Linked DNA regions of Homo sapiens: all the other regions are linked to region 3. Evidence: fine-mapped expression QTL. A gene starts in region 3. Each other region holds a variant in brackets. All regions are shown on one strand. Distances are from middle to middle.

Region 1 (8,186 bases), 58 kb before region 3:
TAGAAGCTAAAGATCTAGGGAGCTGCCAAAAAAAAAGAGAAAGGAAAAAAGATTACACTTAAACAACTATAAAGTTATCTTTATAAAACTCTAAAATTATAGTAGCACATCTATGAGGGAAAAATTACCCTAAATGATGAGTACACCACAAATATATGTAGAAAATAAAAATAATTTGGAAATTCTTATCTACAATATGGACCAATGATATCATGAACAATAAATTTTCATAATATACAATGGGGTCTAAATGTAACAGTAGGCCCTCAACTCTCAAGAGGAACAAAGTGTGTTTTTAAAAAAACTAACAACAAAAGCACAATCCTTGAAACAAACAACAACAAAAAATGATAAACTAAAAAAAAAAAAAAGGACTTCGGCCGGGCGCGGTGGCTCACGCCTGTAATCCCAGCACTTTGGGAGGCCGAGGTGGATGGATCTCGAGGTCAGGAGATCGAGACCATCCTGGCTAACACAGTGAAACCCTGTCTCTAATAAAAATACATAAAAAAAAAAAATTAGCCCAGCGAGGTGGTGGATGCCTGTAGTCCCAACTACTTGGGAGGCTGAGGCAGGAGAATGGCGTGAACCCAGGAGGCAGAGCTTGCAGTGAGCCGAGATTGCACCACTGCACTCCAGTCTGGACAACAGAGTGAAACTCAGTCTCAAAAAAAAAAAAAAAAAAAAAAAGGACTTCAAAATAAAAACCTCTTAAACTTCAAAACACACAGCCACAGGCAAGAGAAATATATTTGGGGCTGGGTGCAGTGACTTATGCCTGTAGTCCCAGCACTCTGGGAGGCCATGGCAGGAGGATAGCTTGAGACCAGGAGTTTGAAACCAGCCAGCACAGCACAGTGAGACCTTGTGTCTACAAAAATTTCTTTTAAATTAGCTAGGTGTGGTGGCACATGCCTGTGGTCCCAGCTCCTTGGAAGCAGAGGTGGCAGTGAACTGTGATCACACCACCATACTCCAGCTTGGGCATAGCAAGTCCTTGTCTCAAAAAATAAAGAAACATATTTGGAAATCATATATGTGAGAAAGGATTTGATCCAGAATATGCAAAGAAATCCTGCAACTCTATAGGACCCAAATAATTTAAAAATAGGTAAAAGCTTTGAATAGACATTTCACAAAAGAAGATACACAAATGGCTAGTGAGCACACAAAAAAGATGTTTAAAATCATTGGTCATTAGGGAAATGCAAATCAAACCTACAACGAATACTACTCTATACCCATTAGAACCTACGTATATACTCAAGAGAAATGAAAACGCACGTCCACATAAAAAACATGTACATGAATATTTATAGCAGTATTCATAATGGCCAAAAACTACAAACTACCCTAATGTCCATCAACTGGTGAATGGATAGTGTTGTATCTATAATGGAATATTCCTCAGCCGTAATAAGAAATGAAGTACTGATACATCCTACAACACTGATACCATGATGATAAACCTTGAAAACATTATACTAAGTGAAAGAAACCAGTCATATAAGGCCACATTCTATATGATTGCATTTATAGGAAACCTCCAGAAAGGGCAAATCCATAAACAGAAGGCAGATTAGTGGTGAGGCTGGAGGTGGAAATCATAATTGACTACAAATGAGTAAAACAGCTTTGAGGTGACAAAAACTAAAACTAAATTGTGGTGATGGTTTTACAATTTCACAAATTTCCTAAAAAATTACTGAATTGATAAATTTTTTAAAGTTTTTCTTTTAAAATGCTTGTATTCTCTTTTATTTCGATGAGCAGTGGTTTGTAGTTCTCCTTGAAGAGGTCCTTCACATCCTTTGTAAGTTGGATTCCTAGGTATTTTACTCTCTTCGAAGCAATTGTGAATGGGTGAAATGGAAGAACATTCCATGCTCATGGATAGGAGGAATCAATATCATGAAAATGGCCATACTGCCCAAGGTAATTTATAGATTCAATGCCATCCCCATCAAGCTACCAATGACTTTCTTCACAGAATTGGAAAAAAACTACTTTAAAGTTCATATGGAACCAAAAAAGAGCCCGCATTGCCAAGTCAATCCTAAGCCAAAAGAACAAAGCTGGAGGCATCACGCTACCTGACTTCAAACTATACTACACTACCAAACACTAACCAAAACAGCATGGTACTGGTACCAAAACAGAGATATAGACCAATGGAACAGAACAGAGCCCTCAGAAATAATACCACACATCTACAACTATCTGATCTTTGACAAACCTGACAAAAACAAGAAATGGGGAAAGGATTCCCTATTTAACAAATGGTGCTGGGAAAACTGGCTAGCTATATGTACAAAGCTGAAACTGGATCCCTTCCTTACACCTTATACAAAAATTAATTCAAGATGCATTAAAGACTTAAATGTTAGACCTAAAACCATAAAAACCCTAGAAGAAAACCTAGGCAATATCATTCAGGACACAGGCATGGGCAAGGACTTCATGTCTAAAACACCAAAGGCAATGGCAACAAAAGCCAAAATTGACAAATGGGATCTCATTAAACTAAAGAGCTTCTGCACAGCAAAAGAAACTACCATCAGAGTGAACAGGCAACCTACAGAATGGGAGAAAATTTTTGCAATCTACTCATCTGACAAAGGGGTAATATCGAGAATCTACAGAGAACTCAAACAAATTTACAAGAAAAAAACAACCCCATCAAAAAGTGGGCGAAGGATATGAACAGACACTTCTCAAAAGAAGACATTTATGCAGCCAATAGACACGTGAAAAAATGTTCATCATCACTGGCCATCAGAGAAATGCAAATCAAAACCACAATGAGATATCATCTCACACCAGTTAGAATGGCAATCATTACAAAGTCAGGAAACAACAGGTGCTGGAGAGGATGTGGAGAAATAGGAACACTTTTACACTGTTGGTGGGACTGTAAACTAGTTCAACCATTGTGGAAGACAGTGTGGTGATTCCTCAGGGATCTAGAACTAGAAATACTATCTGACCCAGCCATCCCATTACTGGGTATATACCCAAAGGAATATAAATCATGGTGCTATAAAGACACATGCACACATATGTTTACTGCAGCACTACTCATAATAGCAAAGACTTGGAACCAACCCAAATGTCCAACAATGATAGACTGGATTAAGAAAATGTGGCACATATACACCATGGAATACTATGCAGCCATAAAAAATGATGAGTTCATGTCCTTTGTAGGGACATCGATGAAGCTGGAAACCATCATTCTCAGCAAACTATTGCAAGGACAAAAAACCAAACACTGCATGTTCTCACTCATAGGTGGGAATTGAACAATGAGAACACTTGGACACAGGAAGGGGAACATCACACCCCGGGGCCTGTTGTGGGATGGGAGGAAGGAGGAGGGATAGCATTAGGAGATATACCTAATGTAAATGATGAGTTAATGGGTGCAGCACACTAACATGGCACATGTATACATATGTAACAAACCTGCACGTTGTGTACATGTACCCTAGAACTTAAAAGTATAATAAAAAAAAA[T/AT]TAAAAAAATGCTTGTATTTATGCTAGTTTATTTGAAATGTGAAAACCAAATCTTTTAAGAAAACAGAAATGTTTCAAAAATGAATGTAGCACCACCTGCAACAGTATTGGACGAAAGCTTTAGGATAAGCTTTCCCTTAAGCATACTACAGGTTGAGTGTCCCTTATCCAAAATGCTTGGGACCAGAAGTGTTTCAGATTTCAGATTTTTTAGGATTTTTGAATATTTCATAGATATAATGAGCTATCTTGAGGATGGGACCCAAGTCCAAACACAAAATTCATTTATGCTTCATATACCTTATATGCATAGCCTGAAGGTAATTTTATCCAATATTTAAATAATTTTGTGCATGAAACAAAGGTTGTGTACACTGACTTATCAGAAAACACAGGTGTTGCTATGTCAGCCACCCATGTGAACACTCTATGGTTGTTTGGCATCACCATCATTCTTGATTGAATTTACATACTACTGACAAGCAATCATTTTCTTACACGGATTCACACAAAGGAACTTAATAGTAAAAATATAAGACACACCATTAATAACAGTGAAAAATAACGTATTCAAACTAAGCAGCACAGTGGCATCACCAGAACACCTGTATCAGCTGTTAAACAGCAACAATGGCAGGCTTTCAGTCTCTACCTACAATGTTATGTTTTGATTAAAAAGTTCCGGTACACAGTACTTTGTTAGGTGAGAAGAAACATCAGAAGCAGTTGAGGGACCAAGAAGTGGGTCCTCTCGGCATAATAAGACATTGTGCTGAATGGCCTTTTAAAATGTTTCCTGCAGTACCACCTACTTGCCTCTTTAACAATGGTTTTTGTTGAAGTCTCTCCTTGATTTTATAAACCTATTTCTTGTTCTGTTATGAATACATGCTGCTCTAGTGCTTCAATAAGCCCATCACCATGCTGCCTATAGGCAGTTGTTCTGCGAGGTCAATGAAATCATCTTCATTATCACCATTATCATAATCACCTTGATTTAGAAGCATTTTAGCTATTTTGCCATCAGTTAATGAATGAACAACTGAAACCTCATTATCAATGTCAAACACTTCTTTGATATATCCTTCTTCCAGCTTACGGATGGACTCTGAAGATATTATTTTTTGCATAAGGAGCTCACTTGACATACTTCAAAGTCACCAATTTGCTCCTCATCATCAATAAATGTAGTGACAGGCAGAGGCTGCAGGCATACACAACTGAGTCACTGTCTTCCAAGTGCTGGCATATATGGCATCCTTCATCCTAAACTCCTTGTGCTGGCAAAAGCATCTATGGCATCTTTCATTCTAAACTCCTTCTGAAAACCTTCCACACCCAGGCCTCAGTTCACTGCTGCTAGCATGCTGCCCAAAAAAGGTTTTTGTATTTACTCTTCATTGATCGTAGAATACCCTGGTCACAAGGTTGAAATAATGAAACACTTTTTTTAATAAGAATTTCAGCTAGACGATGAGCAGAATAGTTGTCAAGGAATAACAAAATCTTGCAGTCATCATCCGGCCTAGCTTCCCTGCAAGTGCACACAAGCTGGTATAAAATGTTTGTGAAACCAATCAGAAAAGATGTCCCTAGGGATCCATGCCTTTTTGTTAGTACAATAATGGACTAGTAAAAAAAATGCATTCCTTGAAAACAGTGAGGATGCAAGCTTTTGCCTATCACAGTAAGTTCACATTTATGCCTGCTGCATTAGCACATCCCAGCACAGTTATTCTGTTCTTTGCATCCTTTATTCTTGTAGGGGCTGTCTCCTCAGCTGTAGTCAGTGTCTTTCTGGGTCAATAATGGCAAAACAGTGATGTTTCATCAGCATTATAGACTTGTTCTGGAGTCAGATTTTCATCAGAGACAATCTTGGCAAATTCATCAATGAATTTCTCTGCTGTTTTGTGATCAAGATGCTTTAACACCACAAACCTTTAGAAAAGTTAATGCTATCTTACCTTAAATTTCTCTAACCAGCCTATTGAATACTCACAGTTCCCTTCGATTTTCAGTTCATTTTAATAGATGTTTATTTCATGATCAGCATGTCCTTAAGTGGCACGTGTTCACTGCAATGCTGATGGATCCACTCTTTCAATGCATGATCAAGATCTTCGTTTTTAACTTTCTGCAGTGTTTTTGTTTTTTTCATTAACTTCTGTCATCATTTTTAGCATGGAACTTCAACAGTTTAGTCCTAAAGAACAACTTTAGGAAAGTTGTTCTTTCTTTTAGGTCATATATGGTGTTCATTCCAACATCATTCTTCTGTAAGAAGTTTCTCACTTACATTATTGTCCAGTTTTTCCAACAGCTTAAATTTATGTGTTATAAATAAAAATAAATGCCTCTTCTTTTTCTTATCAATGTCACCCACAAGGGTATCTGTAGGCCTTTTAAACATTTTAAACAGCCTGGGTGCTGTGGCTCACGCCTGTAATCCCAACACTTTGGGAGGCTGAGGCAGGTGGATCACTTGAGGTCAGGAGTTCGAGACCAGTCTGGCCAACACGGTGAAACCCCATGTCTACTAAAAATACAAAAATTAGCTGGGTGTGGTGGTGGGTGCGTATAATCCCAGCTGCTCAGGAGGCTGAGGCAGGAGAATCGCATGAACCCGGGAGGTGGAGGTTGCAGTGAGCCAAGATTGCACCACTGCACTCCAGCCTGAGCCACAGCGCAGGTCTCTGTCTCAAACGCATCCCCACTCAAAAAAAAATTTTTTTTAAACAGTATCTTTACACCAGAGAAAAGACAGGAAGTAAAGAAGCCCATACTGGGTAATGCACAAAGGTCTTGGCCCCTTGTGGGGCATCATGGGGAAAATGCTGTTGGTGCACTGGACCTGCACATGTGCCATTTTAGTACCCTTCATAGGTGTGCTTGTGTGGGGGAATTTGGGCATACGTGGAAAAGATATATTGCAGCTAGAAGAGGCTGAGTCTTTTTTCCCTTGAGGACACTGAATAAACTGTGTGTTGTGTGCCTGCGTTTTTACTATGACCTCATTGAGGTCTGGTGTGGAATTTTCCACCTGTGGTGTCACCGTACTCAAAAAGTTTTTCATTTTGGACCTTTAAGGATTTTCAGATTGGAGATGCTCAAACTAAATATCTACCTCAGAAATGGCTCTAAGAGATAGATACTAGCTTTTAAATGTGCAGATTTTGTAAAGCTAGTTTTATTATAGAAAAACCACATAAACAAAATAATAAAGGAGAGTCTTAATTGGTAGATTCAAAGATACATACCTGAAAGATAGGCTCTGATAATCCTAGGAGCACCCTTTGAGCATTTCTAGGGCCCAAAAATCGATGTACAAGGGAAGACCAGCCCAGGGAAAAACGAAATACAATATCCTCTTGAAAATCTGAACATAACTTGTGGTAATTTAGATTATAACTGAGATCAAATTTCTTGCAAGGGATCAGTGTATGTAGTTTATCCTGTATACCAGCTGGAAGTAATGGCTTCAAATTTTCTAGAAAGAACAAAATTACAACACTTAAGATAAGAATGGTAAATGTTTTACCTTCAATGGAATGCCTAAAGGAAAATAAGCTCTTCACCAGTCATGAATGAAAAAACAAACCAGACATGACCTTGTAGACATAAATATTACCAATAATTTCTTGCTGGGTCTGAAGCACTAAGGCGTTTACTTCATCGGTGCATCGATCAGCCAAATTTCTTCCCATACCATCCTCTATGTGCTTATTTAATTCCTGTTAACAATGGTAAATATCCATATTATTTTTTCTCCAGAAAGTATGTAGTTTTTATAAAGACATAAAATATTCAGTAAATGCCAAAATGGTCTTTTTAATTTGACTTTTTTTTTTTTTTTGAGACAGGGTCTTGCTTTGTTGCCTAGGCTGGAGTGCTTTGATCTTGACTCACTGTAGCCTTGACCTCCTAGGCTCACGCGATCCTCCTGCCTCAGACTCCTGAGTAACTGGGACTATAGAAGCGTGTCGCCATGCTTGGCTATTTTTTATTTTTTTTGAGATAGAGTTTTGCTCTTGTTGCCCAGGTTGGAGTGCAGTGGTGTGATCTTGGCTCACTGCCACTTCTGCCTTCCGGTTTCAAGCGATTCTCCCGCCTCAGCCTCCAGAGTAGCTGGTATTACAGGCGCCTGCCACCGGCTAATTTTTTTTTTGTATTTTTAGTAGACAGGGTTTCACCATGTTGGTCAGGCTGGTCTCGAACTCCTGACCTCGTGATCCGTCCGCCTCAGCCTCCCAAAGTGCTGGGATTAAAGGCGGGAGCCACCGCAACCAGCCTAACTGTTTTTTGTAGATTAGAGTTCTCACTGTGTTGCCCAGGCTGGTCTCGAACTCTGGGGCCCAACTGATCCTCCCACCTCGGCCTCCCAAAGTGTTGAGATTACAGGCATGAGCCACTGTGCCTCGTCCTAAAATGATCTTTATCTCATTCTAAGTATAAATTTTCTATTTACTTTTTATACAAGACAGTTTACATTTATTACAAGAGGGCACAAGAGATCTAACAGTTTCATTTTGTACTGATACACTGAAATGCCAAACCATGAAATAAATGAGGGTATAGAATAATAAGAAACTGTCTCTGAATAATTTTATCTATACTTTAACTTACACTTTTATATATTTTTAATACATCTGGATTAGGATGAAACTCTG
Region 2 (8,186 bases), 97 kb before region 3:
TGGGATAATCACAGAAGGCTTCGCAGACTCATCTCTGAATTCGATGTTACTGCACCCACTAGAAGGAATTTCTGCCCTCTCTACTTTGTGTCACTTACTCCAGATGCTGAGCAGGAGCAGCTGATTGGCTAAACCATGTGGCCACATGCCTATCTCATTTAATCCTCACACCGACTCTGTGAAGTCGATGGTGTTACTTCATTTAATAGTTGAGGAAGCTGAGGCTCAGTGAGATTAAATAAGTTGCCAAGGTAACAGATCCAGGATTCAGACCAGGTGTGTTCTGCTATAACTTAAAGTTGGTTCTCCCAACCTTAGTTACTAATGTCCTTTCCTGCGACTTGTGCTGTAGCCATACTAGTCTGGTTCCCTGAACACGCATTACTCTTTCTCATCTCCTTTCCTGCGACTTGTGCTGTAGCCATACTAGTTTGGTTCCCTGAACACGCATTACTCTTTCTCATCTGTTACCTTTTATCAAATTGTTCCCTTGGCCTGGAATTATACGACTTCTGAGCCAATTTTGCTCTTTGGAAATCCTATCTGTTGAGTCCTAATCCTCCAAGAGCCCTCCACTTGGATTTATCTTTTTTTTTTTTTTAAATCAGAGTGAGACGGAGTCTCAGTCGCCCAGGCTGGAGTGCAGTGGTGCGATCTCTTCTCACTGCAACCTCTGCCTCCCAGGTTCAAGTGATTCTCCTGCCTCAGCGTCCTGAGAAGCTGGGTCTATAGGCACACACCACCACGCCCAGCTAATTTTGTATTTTTAGTAGACACGGGGTTTCACCATGTTGGCCAGGGTGGTCTTGATCGCTTGACCTCATGATCCACCTGCCTCGGCCTCCCAAAGTGCTGGGATTACAGGCGTAAGCCACCACGCCCAGTCAAGTTTCTTAACTTCATTGATGATCAGTATCTTTGCTGTGAAGCAAGAGTACCAGTACCCCACTTTATATGTTTCTGCAGAGGATTAAGTGAAATAACACATAGAGGACTTAGTCTGCTGCCAGCAAGTGGCAGATTTTTACTTGTACAGCATGTTGGACTTCTGTTATAGAGCTGATCACGGTCTGCCTTGTGTTGTAGTTCTTGTGCATATTTGCCCCTACTGTTTGTACCTAGATGGATAATTTTGTGTCTTAATCATCTCCGTATCTCACTAGCATCCCAAGCACAATGTCGTGGGCGCAGGTGCTCACCAAATCATCTCCTCCCATGATTTGAAGTAACCACATATATGTAAAATACTATGTACTTTTCTTAGTTTAATTGTCACACTATATTTAAAAATCTTTCTGGCTGGGCACGGTGGCTCACACCTGTAATCCCAGCACTTTGGGAGGCTGAGGCGGGTGGATCACGAGGTCAGGAGATCGAAACCATCCTGGCTAACATGGTGAAACCCCATCTCTACTAAAAATACAAAAAAAAGCTGGGCGTGGTGGTGGGTACCTATAGTCCCAGCTACTCGGGAGGCTGAGGCAGGAGAATGGCATGAACCTGAGAGGCAGAGCTTGCAGTGAGCCAAGATGGCGCCAGTGCACTCCAGCCTGGGCGACAGAGCAAGACTCTGTCTCAAAAAAAATCTTTCCTTCCTTCCTCCTCCCATCTGGAAATATAATCTAACTATATTTTTACCTTACTATAGTGTAAATACATGATATAATAGAAATGTATGCTATGTATTATAATAGATGATTTGTTTTAAATTTTAAAAAATGCAAATAGAGAAAATAGATTTTGTTTTCTTGTGTAATTGTTATGTCTTTGATTTGCAAAAAAGTATGTATCATCTTTCTTTTGCACAAATATCTTACCAGATTTTTTATTTCTTGTGGTGCTGGACAGTATGGAATTCAGCCTTTAATTGGGAATATTTTTTATATTCTGTTCTTTTTTTTGTTTTGTTTTGCTTTTTTTTTTTCCAGAGACAGGGTCTCACTGTTTTGCCCAGGCTTATCTAAAACTCCTGGGCTCGAGCGATCCTTCCTCCTCGGCCTCCCAAAGTGCTGGGATTATAGGCATGAGCCATCACGCCTGGCCTTATATTCTGTTTTATAATGGATAATAGTGTTCATAAGAGAGAGTTCTCAGTGTAAATAGAATCTTTGCATAATGTAATTTTGCACATAACTGCTGCTAACATATTTGTAGAATTCTTGTATTCCAACATAATATTTTAATTTTTGTTACCAATTTTCAGCGTAGTTCAATAATTTCCATTTGCAATTTTTAAATTGTGTTACTAATATTAATGTAAGCTCAATGAGGGCAGAGATTTTTGACGCCTATTGGTGCCTAGAATAGTGCCTGACACATAGTGTTCAACCCAGTTTTTTTAACAACTAACTAAATTAAAAAAGATAGTCTAAACAATGATGGTTCATTTTCATAAAGCTTGAAGTCAAAGAACCTTTTTTAAGAATTTGGTCTTTAACTCTACCATTTTTGGAACATGGTTCAGGCCCATCACTGTCATTTCTGGAAACTCTTCATTATAGGAAAGTGGGCTACATTATTCCTTACCAGATGAGGTCTTTAAACCCACAATTTGGCTAAGAATGAAATAATCAAATCACATGTTTAGTGCAACTACTTGTGAACACCCTTACTTAGAAATATTCTGAGTGGTTATAAATAGGTTGAAAGGGCAGCCAGAAAGATCATGTCTGCCATCCAGTGTTTGCTGGGAGCTGAAGCAGGCATTTTTCCCTCGGCTGACTGGAACAAGTTGTCCATTTGGGACATTTATTCAGCAAACATCTTGTGCGTTCTCCTTGCCCAGGACTATGCAAGTACTTAAACACTGTATAGAAAAAACAAAATTGAAGAGGATACTACTATAACCTTTGTGGAAAAAAGTTTAAGCCTAGCAGGAAGGATTTAATTTCATTTCTTATTTTTCTATGTATATAAATCCTCTAAATTTGTTAACTGATAAATTTGAAAAAAACTGATGTTTGGTGTAAAACTTTTTTTATTAAATATGTTCTTTGCAGTCTTTAATTTTTTGTTAATTTCTGCTTCACCGTCTTCCTTTTGATAATCCTTTTCAGTTTGTATAAAAATTTGAGGTCTCTCAAATTTTTATTGACATCTCTCAAATTTTGTTCAGAAGAGGCAAATCCATAGAGAAAGAAAGTAAATTAGTGACTGTTAAGGGCTGTGAGAGAAAAAGGAATTAGGAGATATGGGGTTTCTTTTTTGGGGTGATGTAAATGTTCTGTAATTAGTGGTGATGGTCACACAACATTGTGATACTAAAAACTACTGGATTACATGCCTTAAAATGGTTAAAATGGTTTGATTTAGGTTATGTGATTTTTATATCAATTAAAAAAATTTTTAAAGATGTGGTACAGTGAGAAGTAAATTCACAAATCTACGTTTTCAATAAAAGTATCACTTTAGTCATTCCACAGGTTGCTAAATGCATTATAATCATATTTTTTTACTTCAGGATGCTCGGAAAGCATGTAATGATGCAACGCTTGTTCAGGTAAAGTTTTGTTTTTCTTTATTTCATTTTGGTAACTCATAAAATAATTTGACATAGAGGCAAATGACATTCAGATTCTTGTATTAGTGCTTAATTGAAAAAAGTTAAATGAAATCTCTGTGTAAAAGCACTTCGTAATTTGTCAAATGCTATACAGTGCGAGTGCTTTTTAAAATATATTGTTAAAATAGACATCTATGGAAAAATAAATGCTATAAAAATATACCAGCTATACCAACATGGTAAAACCTCATCTCTACTAAAAATAAAAAAAATTAGCTGGGCATAATCCCAGCTAGTCGGGAGGTTGAGGCAGGAGAATTACTTGAACCCAGGAGGCAGAGGTTGCAGTGAGCTGAGATCGCACCATTGTACTCCAGCCTGGGCGAGAAGAGTGAGACGCCGTCTCAAAAAAAAATATATATATATATATGTATATATATTTTCAAGGCCAAGCATGGTGGCTCATGTCTGTAATCCCAGTACTTTGGGAGGCCGAGGTGGGAGGATCACTTGAGGTCAAGAGTTTGAGGCCAGCCTGGCCAACATGGTGAAACCCTGTCTCTACTAGAAAAAAAAAAAAAACATGAAAGTTAGCTGGTCATGGTGGTGCCTGCCTGTAATCCCAGCTACTTGGTAGGCTGAGGCAGGATAATCGCTTGAACCTGGGAGGCAGATATTGCAATGAGCCGAGATCCCTACTGCATTCCAGCCCAGGAGACAAAGTGAGACTCTGTCTCGAAAAAAAAAAAATTATATATATTTATGTATGTATATATATATGTATGTATAGATTCATATAGTTTATGCTTCTTTTTAAATAGTTTCTGATTCTTTTTGGTATACCCTGATTAAGTGTTTTTTTCCTTATGAAAACTCTTAGGTTGGGAATGAGATAGTAAGAGGGGTCAAGAAGACTAATATTTTTAAAAAATCTTGGGAAGGCTTCATGTTTAATTAATATTGATCATTATTATTAAGGAAGTATTTTATGTGCTCTACAAATATAAAATTGGCTTTCTTACAGTTAAAATTGTAAATGTTTACTGTGATCATTTGCCTCTAGATTTTTATTTGTGGCTGGTTTTTTACTAAAGCATAGAGGTATATCTATTCTTTTTAGTTAATAGTCTGCAGAAGGCATTCTTATTATACATTTATGTATATTATTTATAACAGCACATAGGATTATTTTAAACTAATCATAATTTTCAGGAACATATTGATCCCATAACGGCTCTGTGGAATTATATACATTAAATTACCTTCAGTTACTATAAATGTACTTTATGTTTGCTTTTTTAACTCCTCACTGTTTCTAGTTCAAGTTATCTCATGAACTATGATTAAGGTAAAGAATAACATTTTTGTTGCTTTCAAAAGATTACATCAAATATGGACTC[T/C]GTGGGTCGAATACAAATGCGAACAAGACGTACACTGAGGGGCCACCTAGCTAAAATCTATGCTATGCATTGGGGATACGATTCCAGGTTTGTACCTGTCATTACCTGTCATTTTTAAACTGTTGCAGAATTATTTTCATTAAGAACCATCATTTGCATTTTCTTTGTTTAAAAACAGAATATATTCATGAAGCGTTTGCAGAAAATGCATCTCAGATGAACATGCTGCTTTCAATAAGAATATTAATTGACTCTTTAAAAGTATAAACATTTTTAATATGGAATCCAGGACAACTGTTCAGAAGAGGATTCCTTTTCTTTGCAGTGGAACATTGCAGACATTCTTTGTTTTTTAAATAGGCACAAAGCGTTTTTACTGTATATGAAGCTTGAAATTTCAGTTCATAAGCAAATACGTATTGAACACCTATGTGCAAGTTTTTGGATATTGCTATAGTTTGTTATTACATAAATTCGCAAATAATGGAAATTACATGAAACAAAGGTGTTTGTACTGAATACATCTTTTACTCCCTCGACTGCATCACAGAAAGGTGTGTGCTTGAATGTGCAAGCTGACCATCTGCAGGTGCACAGGCACACGCACAGCTGCTACGTGGCCTACAGTTAGATAGATTGCTCATCACTGTCATTCACTATGTGTATAAGGCTACAGCACAGCCTATGTTTTTCCATTGTCTGGCAATAGCAGATGTGTCTGCTATCACAGTGGTTTACTTGTTCCTTTGATTTGGTTAATCTTAATGGGAAATGCCTAAACCAAGAAACTTCTATGTTTTAATAGAAGTTGCACATTTATTCTCTTCTCCCAGGAGACACTAAAATTATAAAGTAGAAGAAGCCTCAATTGTTGCTCTAATTGGGATACTTGACCACAATAATATAGAACATGTGCCTCTTACGAAGGGATACATAAAATTATATAATTGGCAACTGACATAATGTCTTAATCTTTTTCTTTTTCTTTTCTTTTTTCTTTTTTTTTTTTTTTTTTGAGACAGAGTTTCACTCTTGTTGCCCAGGCTGGAGTACAATGGTGTGGTATCGGCTCACTGCAACCTCTGCCTCCCAGGTTCAAGGGATTTTCCTGCTTCAGCCTCCCAAGTAGCTGGGATTACAGACATCCACAACCACGCCTGACTAATTTTTGTATTTTTAGTAGAGAGGGGGTTTCACCATGTTAGCCAGCCTGGTCTTGAACTCCTGACCTCAGGTGATCCAACCGCCTCAGCCTCCCAAAGTGCTGGGATTAATCAGGTGTGAGCCACCGCGCCTGGCCGAATGTCTTATTCTTTTTCTTAAAGGAGTTGAAGATAAAAATAATTTACCTGTTGATAAAGCAAAATTTTAACTTAAAATATAGTAACTTGAAACAATGTTTATGGTTCTTGCTTTCCTTAAACGTTTTCTGAAGACTGTTAATCTTCATAGAAAAATGAAACCATCATCCAGGAACCTATCTCACATAGTCTTCCCACCCATCCGTGTTATCAATCCATTACTTAATGTTCTCCTCAACTCTTATGCTGATGATGCCAATTGATTTCTAAAGAATTTTCTTTAGATGCCATCCTATACCCCACTATCAGATAGATCTTCCCTTTTGTAAAACCTTGTAGTGATTGCTACCCAAGAATCTGATAATGTTATTTACCTCTAGGGAAAGGAACTGGGTGGCTGATGATAGGCCCAGGAAGGTGCTTTTTAAATTTTCTTCTGTATATCCTTTTTTATTTTTTGAATTTTACACCATGGTGAAAAGTAAAAATTCCAAACAAGGCTGGGCATGGTGGCTCATGCCTGTAATCCCAGAACTTTGGGAGGCCAAGCGAGTGGATCACTTGAGGTCAAGAGTTCAAGACCAGCCTGACCAACATGTTGAGATCCCATCTTACCAGTCGTGGTGGTGCACACCTGTTATGCCAGCTATTCGGGAGGCTGAGGCAGGAGAATCACTTGAACCTGAGAGGCGGAGGTTGCAGTGGGCTGAGATCGTGCCATTGCACTCTAACCTGGGTGTCACAGTGAGTGTCTGTCTCAAAAAAAAAAAAAAAATCCAAACAAAACAAAAAATTTAGTGGCTAAAATTACTTAGGAGTTCATACTCTTTAGTTTAACAAAGCTTTCTGCAGTTTAAGCCCAGTCTGCTTTTCTCAACTTATTTTTCCATTTTCTCACAAACTGTACTACTGGAAGACCCACAATTCCTGAAACAACACTCAGTGTATTTTTCTACCTGTCATTGATCTTACATAGCTTTCTCCTAAAATACAGCCTTTTCTGTATCTTTAGCTCTCAACATTTTCTTTCAAGACTCATTCTCTTGTGATTAACTCATCTAGCCATTGTTCCTCCTTTACTCTCCTGTGGCATTTATTTTATACCCCTCTTCTGACAGTTTTTACTTACTTGATTTAATATAAATATGAGTAAATGTCTTATCTTCACCAGATGGTAGAGGCCTCAAGAGCAGGCGATGTATCCTGCGTTGTACCTCTAGTATTGTCATATTCTCAGGCTCTCAATTGGTGTTTTTAGATTGGATGAAATATGGTTGTTAGGCTTCTATGTACATTCTTGTCATGAAATTTAAGTAAGTCAGTAAGTACTAAACCAGTCAGCTAATATCCACCCAAATCTTGTATAACTAAGATGTTGTTACCACAAAAATGTTTAATCATAGCCAGACATTTTTAGTCAGTTGCTAAATTTTATTTTATGAAATATGTTCAAGATTTTTGGCATGCAGCATAAATTTTTTAAAAGTTGGAAGAACATTTTTTGGTATCAAGTTTTTAGTTGGAAAAATTGTATTTTTCTGAATTATTCTACATTAATGCAATGCATAACCAATTTAAGCTATTTTTTCCCTCTAAGTGTCAAATTATTTTTGTGTTTGTTCCTCTAGGCTGCTAGTCAGTGCTTCTCAAGATGGAAAATTAATTATTTGGGATAGCTATACAACAAATAAGGTAGAATTTCTTCATAATTCTTTTAAATAACCTTATATTTGTTTGGCTGTTCACCAGTTCTTTCCTTTATTCTTTTACCTCAAACTTAAATTGCTTTCTGAGATAAATTTATTGTTTATTTTAATCTAGTTCTTCTCTTTTGTCTTAGTGTTTACTTTTAATGTTTAACCCTTTTTCATTTCCAAAGATGACTCTATGTTTTACTAGAGGGCTCATATTTAATATATGAATATTAGAAGAGTACCATTTTACATATACTAATAAATGATTTTTAAAAATTCCCATTTCCTA
Region 3 (8,186 bases):
TCAGCCTCCCAAGTAGCTGGGATTACAGGCATGTGGCACCACACCGGGCTAATTTTTCTATTTTTAGCAGAGACGGGGTTTCACCATGTTGGCCAGGCTGGTCTCAAACTCCTGACCTCAGGTGATCCACCCACCTGGGCCTCCCAAAGTGCTGGGATTACAGGCGTGAGTCACCTTGCCTGGCCCAAATTATAAACTTTAAACTGTTACAGCCCTTATAGATTATTTATTTAAGAAATAAAAGATCGAGACCAGCCTGGCCAATATGGTGAAATCCCGTCTCTGCTAAAAATACAAAAATCAGCCGGGTGTGATGGTGCGCACCTGCAATCCCAGTTACTCAAGAGGCTGAGGCAGGAGAATGGCTTGAACCTGGGAGGCGGAGGGCTACAGTGAGCTGACATCGTGCCACTGCACTCCAGCCTGGGCAACAGAGCAAGACTCTCTCTCAAAAACAAAAAATCAAAACAAAACAAAAAAAGAAAAAAGTAAAAGTGATAATAATAATTTACTGACCACCAATTATGTACCAGGCTGTGAACATACTTTATCTCATTTAATCCTATGTAATCGTATGAGATGCAAAATTCACATCACCCTCTCAAAATTATAGTTCCTGTTATTGAGGAAACTGAGGCACAGTAAAGTCAAAGCTAGATACTCAGTAAATGCTGGGGTTGGGATTTGAATAAAGGTTTACCCAACTTTATTTATTAATCTATTTATTTATTTGAAACGGAGTCTTGCTCTGTCACCCAGGCTGGAGTGCAGTGGCACGATCTTGGCTCATTGCAACCTCTGCCTCCCCAGCTCAAGCGATTCTCCTGCTTCAGCCTCCTGAGTGGCCGGGATTACGGGCGCCCGCCAGCAGGAGGCTGGGATTACAGGTACCCGCCAGCACACCCAGCTAATTTTTGTATTTTTAGTAGAGACGGGGGTTTACTATGTTAGCCAGGCTGGTCTTGAACTCCTGACCTCAAGTGATCCGCCCACCTCAGCCTCCCAAAGTGCTGGGATTACAGGCACGAGGCACCGCGCCCGGCCTATAATGCTCTTAACACCAAGGTGATACACATGACAGGTGTTCTAGCTGAGGTGCACATACTATTTTTGCTGCTTCACTAAGTTCTGGGTATATCAGCACTGAAGTGATATAATACAGCAGGGAATGAGATAGTGCTTTTTCAGTTTATTTTATTTTTACTTTTTTTTCGGACAGAGTCTCGCTCTTTCGCCCAGGCTGGAGTGCAGTGGCGCTATCTTGGCTCACTGCAAGCTCCGCCTCCCGGGTTCATGCCATTCTCCTGCCTCAGCCTCCCAAGTAGCTGGGACAACAGGCGCCCGGCTAATTTTTTGTATTTTTAGTACAGACGGGGTTTCACCGTGTTAGCCAGGATGTTCTCGATCTCCTGACCTCGTGATCTGCCCGCCTCGGCCTCCCAAGGTGCTGGGATTACAGGCGTGAGCCACCGCGCCCGGCCTTTTCAGTTTATTAAGCATTTTCCTAACCCTTATTCTATTTCATCTTCAAAATGGTCCTGTGCGGTACATGGAGGAGTTACTATCAAACCCATTTACATTTTTACTGATGTGGAAACAGCCTTAGTGAAAGTTAAGTCAACTAATAAGTGGGAGAACCAGAGATGAAAATGCATGCACATCTTGCTTCCAGTTCTTAGCTACCAGTTGGGAGAAGGGGAACAGAATAGCCTAAAGAAACAGACAACCATGAAATGTACAGAAATGATACCAATATATAAAATACCTCACCTCGCCGGGTGCAGTGGTTCACGCCTGTAATCCCAGCACTTTGGGAGGCCGAGGCGAACAGATCACCTGAGGTCGGGAATTCAAGACTAGCCTGACCAACATGGGGAAACCCCGTCTCGACTGAAAATACAAAATTAGCCGGGCGTGGTGGCACATGCCTGTAATCTGAGCTACTCGGGAGGCTGAGGCATGAGAATCGCTTGAATCCGGGAGGCGGAGGTTGTGGTGACCCGAGATCACATCATTGTCCTCCAGCCTGGGTAACAGGAGTGAAACTCTGTCTAAAAAAGAAAGAAAGAAAGAAAAAAGAATAAAATCAAACGCCTCACCTAACAATGTAAACAATCATTCCTTGAGTAACCATCTCAATTCACTGCATTCAAAAATCAAAAAGAGAAGAGCTATTACGATTCATATAGCCCAAAGCTTCACACTTCATGTTCTAAATACTCTAAAAGTATCAGGGAGAACACTGAAAACACTCAGCCGAACATGTTAAGTAGTCTCTTGTTATTTCAGAATGCATCTCAAGTTCTTTGCAACTTGAAGAATAAAAGTAAGAAAAGGAAACCAAGCGTGGTATTAAAATCAACGTTGCAAGCTGGCCTGGATTCAGGCTGTTAGGTGAGAGGAGGAGGCACACGGATCAGGAAGGGTCTGACTCCTACTTAGGGCCGAACGATAACCAAATGTCTATCGGACTTCCTTTCAGCACAATGGTGATGCCTACTCAAGACCAAAAATGCTAACCATCCTTCATTTTAGCAATCATTTTTATGTGCCTTTTGTGTGCATAACAGCCTTGAAAAAACTTAGCTTTCTACTCAAGGATGTCATAAACATTTGCTCACTAGTCTTCTTAGCAGGAAGATTCTGAATCACAAGCAACCTATCACAGTCCCCCCTCCCTCTGAAATACAAACGACATATGTAACACGTGTCACTGCAGAAAAATCAGAAAAATGTTTAAAAATTTTTTATATCACCTAGAAACCAACATCTTTCCACCTGTCATTTTTTTCAACCAACAAGAAAGTCTATGCACAAAATAGAATACATACAACAGGCAGTCAGCAATCATCAAATAGATAAACGTTTCAAAAGGCCTTTCATGCAATGTATATTCTTCCTAATTGCTGTAAGACGTCTTTACAGTAAATAACTCCATTTTTAACGAGTTTAAAAAGAGTTAAGCTTTCTTTTTCGTTCTCATTAAAATAAGCATATGCTTTAAATTGTAAAAGAATTGAAACAAAAACATGTTGCAGGAGAGCCTGAACTAGAATCCACTACATGTCCAACGTGGAGGCAGTCTTTACTGCAATATCACACGGTCACTAAATACTTGATTCGCTATTTTTCAGTCCGGCATAAATCTTTCTCTTCGAAAAAAACAAAAAAGGCATAAACTGCTTCAAATGATTCGTTTCCCTAGACAGTACTTAAAGACAAAACCAAAAAAGGGGGTTTCTAAGCACCGTCACACGAGTGAGGCGACTCTCAGGCTGGAGGCTTTGGGCGCCAGCATCGACGCCTGCTCTCCGCGGCTACAACTCGTTGCGCGAGCCCGGGGATTCGCCGCCGGAGGTCACGAAGCCGCCGGGCAGGGCCGCAGCGCCAGCGAGGACCCAGGATCGTCCCGAGCCCGGACGCAGCCAGACAAATGCCCGTCGGAGGCGCAGGGCAGAAGTCCCTGGGACTTAGCCGCCTCCACCCCGGCGCCACGCACCAGCTTCGCCCGGGCCCAGAAGCCGGCGCCAAGGAGACTTCCAAGCCCCGACACCAAAGGTTCCGTAAAGACAACGGCAGCAGGGGGCCGAGGGGAGCCCGGCCAAGGCGTCCTGCGCAGGGGGTGGAACTGCCTTCGGGATGGGGGAGGGGAACGCCATCCCGCCATATAACGAAGGCAGAGTTTCCGTATAAAGGGAGCTCCGGTCTCTCCCGCCCTCTCCCGTTAGAAGATGCGCCCGCACGCCCGCGTCCCCTGGAGCAGTCCAGCGCCCGACCCACCCGCTCCTCCCTCACACTCACCAGTCAGTCCCCCGAGGCCCTCCCGGCCGGCCCACGCAGAGGCGGCGGCGGCCGAGAGCGCAGGCGGAGGGGCCGCGCGGTCCTTCCCGCGGACGCACGGCGGCGGGCAGCGCTGCTCCGGCCCTAGCGCTCCCGGACGCTGTGCTGGGCCGACCCCTCTCCCTCCCCGCGCGCCCCACGCCCTGAGCGCCAGGCCCCTGGCCTAGGCTCCGCGGCCGCACTGCCCTGGCCGCCACGCTCCGCGCCTGCGCCGCGCACCTCAGGGGCCCGCCGAGAGGGCGGGGAGGTGACGAGGTGAGGTGGGGGCAGGGAGCGGGCTGCGCGAACGCACCGCACACGCGGCCTGGGAGGGACCACCGGCCCGCAGCCCCGGGGGAGGCCCAGCGGCCCGCGCCCCCTGCCGGAGGCCTTGCGCCGCCGCAGTCTCCTTCTGGGCGGGGAAGAGCCCCTCCCGAGCCCCGAGGGCGATCCCACCCTCTAGGATTACTCCACGCCAGGCGGCCAGCGAATTTATCCCGCCCGCCTCCACCGCCCCTTCAAGCCCTGGGGAACTGGGAGAAACGTGGCGCGCAGCGGCACCTTTCCCACGCTGCTCCTCAAGGGAAAGGACGCGAGTGGTCTTGCCCAGGTTAGGCAAGGCAGATGGCATCTCAGACCCCGAAGTGTGCCAGCCGCCTGTTGGGGACAGAGAGGCCGAGGACCTCGTCACGGTTTTACTGAGGCCACACCAGAGAACCACCTAGGGCTAGGATGCTGCCCTCAGGGCAAGAGGGTGAAACCTGAAGACTGCGAGTCGTTGTTGAGTTTCACCCGATTCCTTGGCTCGAGAAATAGTGGAATGAATGAGGAGTTAAGGGGGACTGGACTCGACGATTTAAGTCCTTTCTCGACTTTGACTTTCTTTGAGCAGCTGTAGAAATGATTAAATTACACGAGCATAAATAAATTTGTGAACATGGTTCCATAAATGATCTCTGTGCAAGTGTGGTGATATGTTTAATTCAGTCCTTTTGACAATGAGTTGAGGTTTTTAGTCACATTTTACAAAATGGAAAAGTAAATGTGTGAGAAGCTAAAGACTGGGTCTTAATTCATTTTGGTAGCCTAAACCCCTGAGGTTCAAACGGTTAAGAGGATGACTGAGAGCCATGTGGATTATCAGGTACCCAAGGTCACTCGGATAGTTAGGGCTGCAATGATGTCTCTTTGTTCACGTCCACTGCTTTTTCTGACAACCACATGCCAATCAACCAATCAATCGCTGGAAAGTAATAATCACAGACTTTACTCTGATCCCTTCACCATCCCCCAGGAGATAAAGCTATATTTGAAAGAGACACTACTTGTTTGTGAGGCTCAGTTTTTATGACCTCCTAAGTTTTATGTGCGTACTCAGCTCAAATAAATGCTCACGAATGCTAGTATGGCCCGAATTAAAGTTCGAAGAAATGTAGAGACATTTTTAAATCCTAGAATAGTTAGTATCTAGCACAGAACCGGGAATCGGTGGAAACCACAAGGGGGTGTCATGCCACCATCTTACCATTTTGCCTTACCACATAGCCTTGTGTCCAACAAAATCTTTATATTTCAAAATGAAGTTTTACTCCAAAACATTTTGTAGTGAAAGTAAACGCACACTCTCCCCAGCATCCCACGTATTGTTTGCACTTAGAGGAGCTTGACTTTGTTTAGATGTTGTTTAACATAGTCACAAATTGCAAGCAATTTCAAGTTCTTGATTAGCTGGAGTGTTTTTCAGTTTCATTTTTGGGTCCCTCTTTTCCTCATCTCCCGCTCCAAGGGAGGGTGATAGCTGGGATAAAACCCTAAAATCTCAAGAGTGCTAAATTGTAGAGTTTGTTAAATACTATTATAAATTTGATTCAGGGCTATTAAAACATCGTTCTTCCAACTTTTTCACACACTTGTAGAATAGCTTAATTTCTCCTTCCTTTCCTTCCTTCCTTTTCTTTTTTTTCTTTTTTCTTTCTCACGGTCTCACTCTGTCGCCCAGGCTCCAGTACAGAGATGGGATATCGGCTCACTGCAATCTCCACCTCCTAAATTCAAGCAATTCTCGTGCCCCACCCTTCAGATTAGCTGAGATTACAGGCGCGAGCTGCCACACCTGGCTAATTTTTGTATATTTAGTGGTGCTGAGATTTCACCATATTGGCCAGGCTGGTCTTGAGCTTCTGGCATCAAGTGATCCGCCCGCCTTGGCCTCCTAAAGTGCTGGGATTACAGGCGCGAGTCACCGCGCCCGGCCACTTAATTTCTTCCTGATTAGAAAATAGTTACGTTTTTAGTACAGAATGGAGACAACAGAAAAGTACAAAGAGCAAAAGTAAATTTACCATAATCTCACAACCCTGAGCTCATCAATGGTAACATTTTGCTTTCTATCTTTCCGTTATTTTTATACCTATACTGACATAAAAATTTGTTTTCAAAATTAGAATATTGGCTGTGTTTTTTTCTAACAGGTTCTTTTTTCCAATTAGTATAGCACGAGCATTCTTTATGTTTTTTGTTTGTTTGTTTGTGTGTTTTTGAGACAGAGTCTTGCTCTTTCGCCCAGGCTGGAGTGCAATGACGTGATCTTGGCTCACTGCAACCTCCGCCTCCCAGATTCAAGCGATTCTCCTGCCTCATCCTCCGAGTAGCTGGGATTACAGGCGCGTGGCACCACACGGGGCTAATTTTTGTATTTTTAGTAGAGACGGGTTTCACCATGTTGGCCAGGCTGGTCTCAAACTCCTGACCTCAGGTGATCCGCCCACCTCGGCCTCCGAAAGTACTGGGATTACAGGCGTAATTGCAGTTTGTTGTTTTTTAATTTTGTTAGTGGTGCAAACATTTTAAATTGTAGTGAAAGCAAGTCTATTAATCTTTTCCTTTGCAAGTTCTATTTTTGGCCTTTTGCTGAGATAATCTTTTCTTCTATGCAGGATCTGGTTGCATTTTTTGCTTTAACTTTTTCGTTTGTCTACAATTTATTTTGGGATATGGGATGAAGAGAACTGGGTAAATCTGGACTAGGGCCTGAGTAGCTGCAGTTCTAACAAATTTCCTTTCGAAGTCCATGCTGCTGGCCTGTGATCACGTCTGGAGAACCACTATCCTAAGTCTTTCCTCACCCAACCCCACACTAACCATATAGTATTTCTCACTATTCCACAGATACGCTCTGCCTTTTTCTCACTTGTGTGATCTAGCACGTTTCTTCCACCTGCAATTTGTTTCCTTTGTTTCTGTAAGATGAAGCTCACAGTTGATCTCTTCTATGAAACCTTGATTTTCCCTTGCCGAAATCTCTGACCAATCTTTAGAGATTCCACAGTAGTTAGTACATTTGTCCACTTCTCCCCAGAGATGGAGTTACTGTGAAGTTACTGAAGCTTAAATTTCAAGTCCCTTCAATTGCATGAACCTCTTCCAGGACCACGTGCTTAATTTTGTATTATTTATTTTGAGACAGAATCTCACTCTATCGCCCAGGCTGAAGTGCAGTGGTATGATCTCGGCTCTCTGCAACCTCCTCCTTCTGGGTTCAAGCGATTCTCGTGACTCAGCTTCCCAAGTAGCTGGGACTACAGGTGCGCACCACGATGCCTGGCTAATTTTTGTATTTTTAGTAGAGACGAGATTTCACCATGTTGGCCAGTCTGGTCTCAAACTCCTGACCTCAAGTGATCCACCCACTTCGGCCTCAGCAAAGTGCTGGGATTACAGGCATGAGCCACCACACCCAGCCTGTATTAAAATTTTATATTATTTTTCTCAAATTGATCTTCCCAGTTTGCATAAGCGTCTGCCCTTGCAAAATTTGGCTCCATCTGTTCATCATGTTGTCTCTCCACGGACCCTAAGTTCCAGTTTTATTATCTTCCAATCTGCTCCATTTCCCTGCTTAGCACAGTATCTTGCATACAGCCTCATTCATTTCTTTCAGTAGAATATTCATTGCATATCTACCTTGTGTTCAGCACTGTACTAGATACTGGCAATACAGTGTGAGCAAGATAGACATGGTCATTGGTCTCCTGGTCCTTACAGTTGAGTAGGGAATATGGGCAATTATACAACACTGGAATGTAATTAGTAAACTTACATAGTGCAGGTATGGGAACACATGACACATGGCCTAGCTTGGTATTCTGTTTGTCGAATGAATTGATAAACTCTGTCATGGTTACCTAGTCAGCTAACACTAGTGCACACCTAAGGGACACGCTTCTGACTCAGGCATGAGGTGGCTGCATGCAAAAGTCTCAAGTTAGTCATCTCACATACTCAACAGAGCCATCTGAGCTCCAAAATTCCAAGCCACCCTTACACAGGTACAAGGACTAAATTTATACATTTCTTTTTTGAAAGCA

The links.
Region 1: its variant is fine-mapped to the expression of ZNF639 in whole blood (INTERVAL, PIP above 0.99).
Region 2: its variant is fine-mapped to the expression of ZNF639 in whole blood (TOPMed, PIP above 0.99).

Annotation. Positions count from the first base shown.
Region 1 is chr3:179,377,405-179,385,590 of GRCh38, reverse strand. It overlaps MFN1 (mitofusin 1), which reads right to left. Exons shown (of 18, transcript NM_033540.3): 12 at 8,143-8,186; 13 at 7,148-7,250; 14 at 6,777-7,006; 15 at 1-22. Among named protein-coding and RNA genes, the nearest start is that of MFN1, 34 kb to the right of the region's middle. The variant T/AT (reference allele first, on the strand shown) is at 3,517.
Region 2 is chr3:179,416,202-179,424,387 of GRCh38, reverse strand. It overlaps GNB4 (G protein subunit beta 4), which reads left to right. Exons shown (of 10, transcript NM_021629.4): 3 at 3,461-3,499; 4 at 4,883-4,989; 5 at 7,832-7,895. Among named protein-coding and RNA genes, the nearest start is that of GNB4, 31 kb to the left of the region's middle. The variant T/C (reference allele first, on the strand shown) is at 4,903.
Region 3 is chr3:179,318,907-179,327,092 of GRCh38, reverse strand. It overlaps ZNF639 (zinc finger protein 639), which reads right to left and starts at 4,062. Exons shown (of 6, transcript NM_001303426.2): 1 at 3,802-4,062. RefSeq lists enhancers at 1,962-2,061, 3,103-3,152 and silencers at 3,723-3,862, 3,893-4,332.